Regions from separate parts of the Homo sapiens genome. Here region 2 is linked to region 1. Evidence: fine-mapped expression QTL. A gene starts in region 1. The other region holds a variant in brackets. All regions are shown on one strand. Distances are between the middles of the regions.

Region 1 (2,917 bases):
CAAAGAAAATAGAAACAAGTTCAAATGCAATGCATTAACCAAATAAAACAAGTCTGCTTCAAATTAGGAACCAACCTAAGCATTTGTAAAGTGTAGCAGAATCAGAATTCTTTTAAAAATTAGATTTGGAACCTGAACTATATAATTCATAATTCTCATTTTTCTGTGGAAAATTATTTTATCTTTCTCCTGTATACCTGAAAAAATGTCCATAGGCTTAAAGGGTCATGCTTTTACATTCCTTCCATATCACAGGTACTATGAAGTAAGGAGACTTTTAGGTTTCTTTTTGTCTTAAACTCAGACAGCTTTGTAAGCAGTAGTGTGTAGATTACAAGAGTTAGACAAAAGCAGGCGCGACTGAGAAGAGTTGGTGGGGGAGAAGCTTGGGGCACTTCCTGTCACTCAACACATTCCAGATCACTAAAAAATTTCCACACCCTCTGCATTCCCCCTTGCCCACTCCAGTTCCCGGTATTTTCTGATTCCATATGTTGTGGTATTTACCATACTTCTCTCCCTCACTAGGCTCTGGCAAGACTGCTTCAGAGGGGATGCATTCCTTTAGATTGCACAAAGCGGAGCTGGGAAAATGGCTGGCAGTTTCAGAATCTAGTCACGATCGCACGCATGAGCACCTCACACATCCATGTCCCTACCCGCCCCCCCGCTCCCGCCCCTGCAGCTGGCTGACCTGTCTCACCCACTGCTGGCCTATCGAACGGCCAGGACTGTCTGGTTTTGGCTCGTGCCTTTGTCCATGTCTGGCTTAGTTCCTCTCTGTCTATGCTTGCCTCTACCCCCACCGCCCCAGGCGGCACAAGTGTTTGGCCACACAAAACTAGAGATAGAAAAGGTGGTAAAAACTTCAAACTTTTCTAAATTCTCCAACAGTTTATTTCTTGTGAATTTCTTCCTTCTTTAAATACTCCATTTTAAGAAAACAAAAAAATTAATTATCTAAAGGCAAAGAATGGAAAGCAACCTTTGTGTTCCTTATAATAACTGACTTCATAACTCTCTCCAGCTGCGTTATGGGATGTGTATAAAAAGCTTCTGTTCTGAGAACAAAGGAGCACGTGCAGAAATGAGACGAAAAAATCCACTGACAGTATTCCATTACACAAATTACTTAAAAGATTTTAGTCAAGCCCCTCAACAGATTCAATTTTAAAATGGCTTTTAGTTAAAAAAAAAAAATTGAAAGTGCTTACCCAGTAAAAGAACCGAAGTAGTCCTGAACTGTTACGTAAGACTTTTTACAGTTGGATCTTTGTCAAAAGGGGATGGGGGTGATGGGAGAAAGCAGCAACGACAATCAAAAAAGTTCGAGCTGCTGTGGCTAGAGGACAACTTCTGTGTTTCCAGATAGGATTCTTGCTGTAGAAATGGAACTTCCAGCCAGCACAGCATCCTGTCCCAGTAGAGAAATGAGTTTGTCAGTTAAAACAAAAAAAAAATTAGATACTGGAACCCAGGCTAGACGAGGTATTGAACCGCGCCAGATTTCCTTGCAGCCCTGTCTGCTCAGCTCGCATTGAACTATATATGACCCAGATGATGGACAGAAGCACATTTAGTCATGTGCACACTGGAAGAAAGCGGATTTGCTGGTCCCTGGCAGTGCAGGGGTTTGTCTTCTGATTGGGCTGTGCCCTGATCGGTGAAATGTGAAGCCCTCACCATTCAGAGGCCGTAATTCAGGACTGGCAGTTTGAGTGTCTGGCTGCCTCTAGTCACTGAGAGACTTTGAAGGTGTTGCTTTTGTTTGGTGGCATTACCCACCCAGAGGTTGCTTACACCTCTCTACTTGTGTCAGAAGAAATACTAGTCTTTCTGAAATACAAATAGGCAGCCGATTTTTCCTGAATCCTAAATCACCCTATTGTTGATAAACTTGGCTCTAACTGAAACCAATTATTTGATTTGAAAATTTATTGTGATCCTAACCAAGCTTCATATCCAGACCAACCCTTGGTCTTGATTTTATAGGTTTGATAAGGTAAAAATAAAAGTGGCATATTTGACTTTGAAGCCTCTATATGATATAAATTGCTCTTAATGAAAATTGGATAGATGGACAACAGAGAAGTGAAGTTTTAGATTCTGGAGTGTTTGGATGTATGAGGAAGAAGCTTTATGTCTTTTTATCCCCTTTGTGAGACTGTCACTCTTGTCCCAGTCCTAGTCACATTAGGGGTTGCTGGGGGGGGGAAGCTATGAAAGCATGGACCCTACTGAGCTGTGACATAGCCTTTAATCATGCAAGACAGCCACGGTCTGCTCTCTTCAGTCTGTCTGAACTAGGGTCCTTGGGGTTTATTTTCCATCTTTCTGAGCCACTGGGAAACCAGGTCATTATACAGGACTGTCATTTGTGACATTTTTGTTTAGTACATGGCAGTTGCTTTGTTTATTTAATGCAAGTTGACACTTCTTTAAAGTTTCAAAACAGTAAAGTTGTTTTGTGAGACCTTGACTCTGATATATGAAATCTACTCTACATGGACCAATCATTTTTTTCCGTGGACTTTCTTGTCTCTTTAGAAATTAGCTTATAGAGTCCTAAATTGATACTTAAACATACCAATAGTTCTGTTTATTTCTTGCCTTTCTCACAGTTGTTGAAATAATTCCATCTGTCTCTTTTGCTGTAAATTTTGGGTTTGGATGTTTGTACTTGGAATTTTTTAGATGTTGACTATATTATGCAGCACCTTCCATATGAGGACTACCCCAGAATTATTCTCTTGTCTTAACCCGAGAAAAGCTGTTTTGATGCACTATTAGATATAAGAATGTTCGAAAGAAGAGGAGATGAGCACTCTCTTGCTTTTTGTAAGCCACAAGACAATCTTTTTTTTTTCTAAGTTGTGGTAAGGTATATGTAACATAAAATTGACTGTTGTAATAATTT
Region 2 (2,917 bases), 55 kb after region 1:
TTTGCCATATTGCCCAGGCTGGTCTTGAACTCCTGGACTCAAACGATCTACCCGCCTCAGCGTCCCAAAGTGCGGGGATTACAGGTGTGAGCCACTGTGCCCTATTTAATAATTTTTAAGTGATGCTCAAATTATCCCATCTTTGTTTAGTAAATACCTCTTCAGGGTAGCTGATTCAGCTACTTTTGAGGGGGTAGAAAAGACAGGATTTATGACAGGTTGTATGTGGGTATAGTCAAAGAGGAGGAAGGAGCCATGGAAAGAGTGCCAGGTTTTTGGCTTGGGTGGTTGATGCCTTTCACTGAACAGGGGGGCCAGAGAGAGGAACAGAGTTTTAAAGGAAGACAAGTTTGGACTTGTCTGAGGTGCTTATGATGGATACATCTAGGTGGAGGTGCCCAGGAGGCAGTTGGATATCAGGATGTGAGATTCAGGGGAGCAGTTCCTGACTCCAGGACCTAGGATAAGGCTCAGTTGCTGAGTGTAGTTGACTCAGATTGGGATTATGTGCGTTATTTCTTGTTGGATAAAAATGGATTCCTTTGCCATCAGGAGCCAAGTTCTACCCTAAAGAAAGACTGCGTAAGCCCTCATTGTCCTTTCTTTTACCTATGCCTATCCTTAGAGAGTTCAATTTTTAGTAGAGTGGAAAGGGATAGAACTGGTGCAGGTAGGATTGCCACTTGCTGATTTGCAACTGATCTTGTCAGATTTATTACAGCCAATCCCTCAATTAGAGGAGAGCTCTGTGTATGGGTAAGATTTGCTGGAGTTGGAATTGGGACTGGGAAAACTGGTTTTGGCTTTGCGGGAATGGCTGGCCTAAGGTGGTCTATTTGTATTCCTGAAGGTTTTTTTTCCCCCTTTCCTATGTTGCTGCTTTCTGAAGCAGCTCCTTTCCTTCCTTTCTTCAGTCAACAAATATTCAAGCACTGGAGATACACTGGTTGGCAAAAATATGGGGCACAGTCCTTGGTCTCATATTTCGGAATCCAGTGACGGATACATATGTTATATATGTTAATCAAAAGATCGTCAGCAACAGGTGGTTCTACACTGATGCAGGAACCCAGCAAATGACATATTGATCAGGAACCTTTGACTACCAGTACCAGCCCTTCATTGTTGGAAGATTTAGTCTCAGGTAGGCTTCTAAATCAGAAAATGTATATTTAACACAGGGCCTGAAACATGGGAGACTCTGAAGTAGAGTTTGTCTAGGGGAAAAAACCTGTCGTGAGGTAAGATGAAAGAGTTAGAAAATGTGAAAATGAAGAAGAATATGAATGCACTATTAAGAAATTCAACAGAAGAACTGTACCCCACCCACACAACACACACACCTCTCGAGGAGCCATCTAATTGCTTTAATGTATTATGAAAGCCTTTTAAATACTAAACTGAAGACAGCCCTGGGCTTGACTCTTTGGAGTACATGAGATTAATAAGAAAGGATAGAATTGTAAAATAAAAATACTACGTGATGAGTAATGTCGTAGTATATTTTAGGGATCCAGGCAGAAGGGAAGAAGGGTGCGATTTGACTTTGAGTTTAAGTCTGGGAGAATGGAGTCTTAAAATATTTTACAGAGGAGGTGATTTTTAAATTGAGTCCAGTAAGATTAGTAAGTGGGAGTGGAAACTATAAGGAAATAGTGAAAAGAGTTATTCCAGGCAAATGGAATAGCTTAGTATAATATTTGCA[C/T]TATAAGTAAGTGGGTCAGCATGGCTGGAGTAATGGGTACTTAAGAGGAGTGGTGGGAAATGAAGCTGGAGAAGTCAGGAAGAGCTGGGTTATAGAGGGAGGGCCTTAGGAGTGTGGGCCTTTATACCATAGGTTCCTGGGAACCACTGATGGGACTCAATGAGATCATGCCACACTTAATGGGGGCATTTTATCTTGCCTTTTCCCAGAATTCTCACGTAGAACTGAGTTCTTTTTAGATAGAAGTCTTTTCCTATATCATCTGACGTTGTCTCTAGGTCAGGTAGATGGATGTATGAACAAATGAAACAACCAGAGAAGTGAGGGCTGAAACCAGAGTTGGCTTGGAAAAACTAACCTTCAAGTGGTCTACCTTTATAGGAGCACCAAAGGAGAAAGCCTGTCACTTTACTCTGCCCCCAAGTTTGAGACTTGCTTTGTACAACTTTGATCTTTTTTTACTTCAGCTTCACATGTTGCTTAACAGCAGTTTGAGCTGTTGCTGTGTTCAGGGCTAGAGTATTTATTTGCATTAATCTCTGGGCCAATCTGGGTCTTGAGAAGAAGGTAAACAGTCACGGGTGCCAAATGTGATGAATAAGTCCCAACTTGTTTAGACCTCTCAGGAGACAAAATAGTTGACTGCGTTTATATTTATATGCTCTGTATCTGATTCCTTTGTTTTCATTCAAAAAGGACTTATTTATTCATGTTATAATCTGTTCTTGATTGGGATACTTTAAAAATTCATGGATAAAATCTTGACTGGGGAATTGTGAGAAATTTTAAATGGAGGAAAAGCTCACCTTTTCCAGGTTCCTCAGTTCGCAGGTAGGAAACTTACCTAATTAAATGTCTTACACATATTTAAATTTCCTGGATTGTCCCAAAAATGTCTTTTTACAATTATTTGGTTCAAATCAGGATCTAAAAGTACATATATTGCATTTGGTTGTTAACACAAGGCTGTTCTTTTTTTTGAGACAGGGTCTTGCTCTGTCACCCAGGCTGGAGTGCAGTGGCGTGATCACAGTTCACTGCAACCTCCCAGGCTCAAGCAACCCTCCCACCTCAGCTAGGATAGCTTGGGCTTCAGGCGTGTGCCACCATAATGGCTAATTTTTTTTTTATAGAGACGGGTCTCCCTATGTTTCCAAAGCTGGCCTTGAACTCCTGAGCTCAAACGATCCACACACCTCTGCCTCCCAAAGT

Evidence for each region. PIP is the estimated chance that this variant, and not a neighbour inherited with it, causes the effect.
Region 2: its variant is the best candidate, but not a certain one, in a credible set for the expression of MIR181A2HG in fibroblasts (GTEx, PIP 0.69).

The regions. Positions count from the first base shown.
Region 1 is chr9:124,657,039-124,659,955 of GRCh38, reverse strand. MIR181A2HG (MIR181A2 host gene) reads right to left here and starts at 1,520. Exons shown (of 2, transcript NR_038975.1): 1 at 1,215-1,520. The region is part of intron 2 of NR6A1 (nuclear receptor subfamily 6 group A member 1); the gene reads left to right. RefSeq lists enhancers at 483-532, 1,354-1,473.
Region 2 is chr9:124,601,716-124,604,632 of GRCh38, reverse strand. The region is part of intron 2 of NR6A1 (nuclear receptor subfamily 6 group A member 1); the gene reads left to right. Among named protein-coding and RNA genes, the nearest start is that of MIR181A2HG, 55 kb to the left of the region's middle. The variant C/T (reference allele first, on the strand shown) is at 1,706.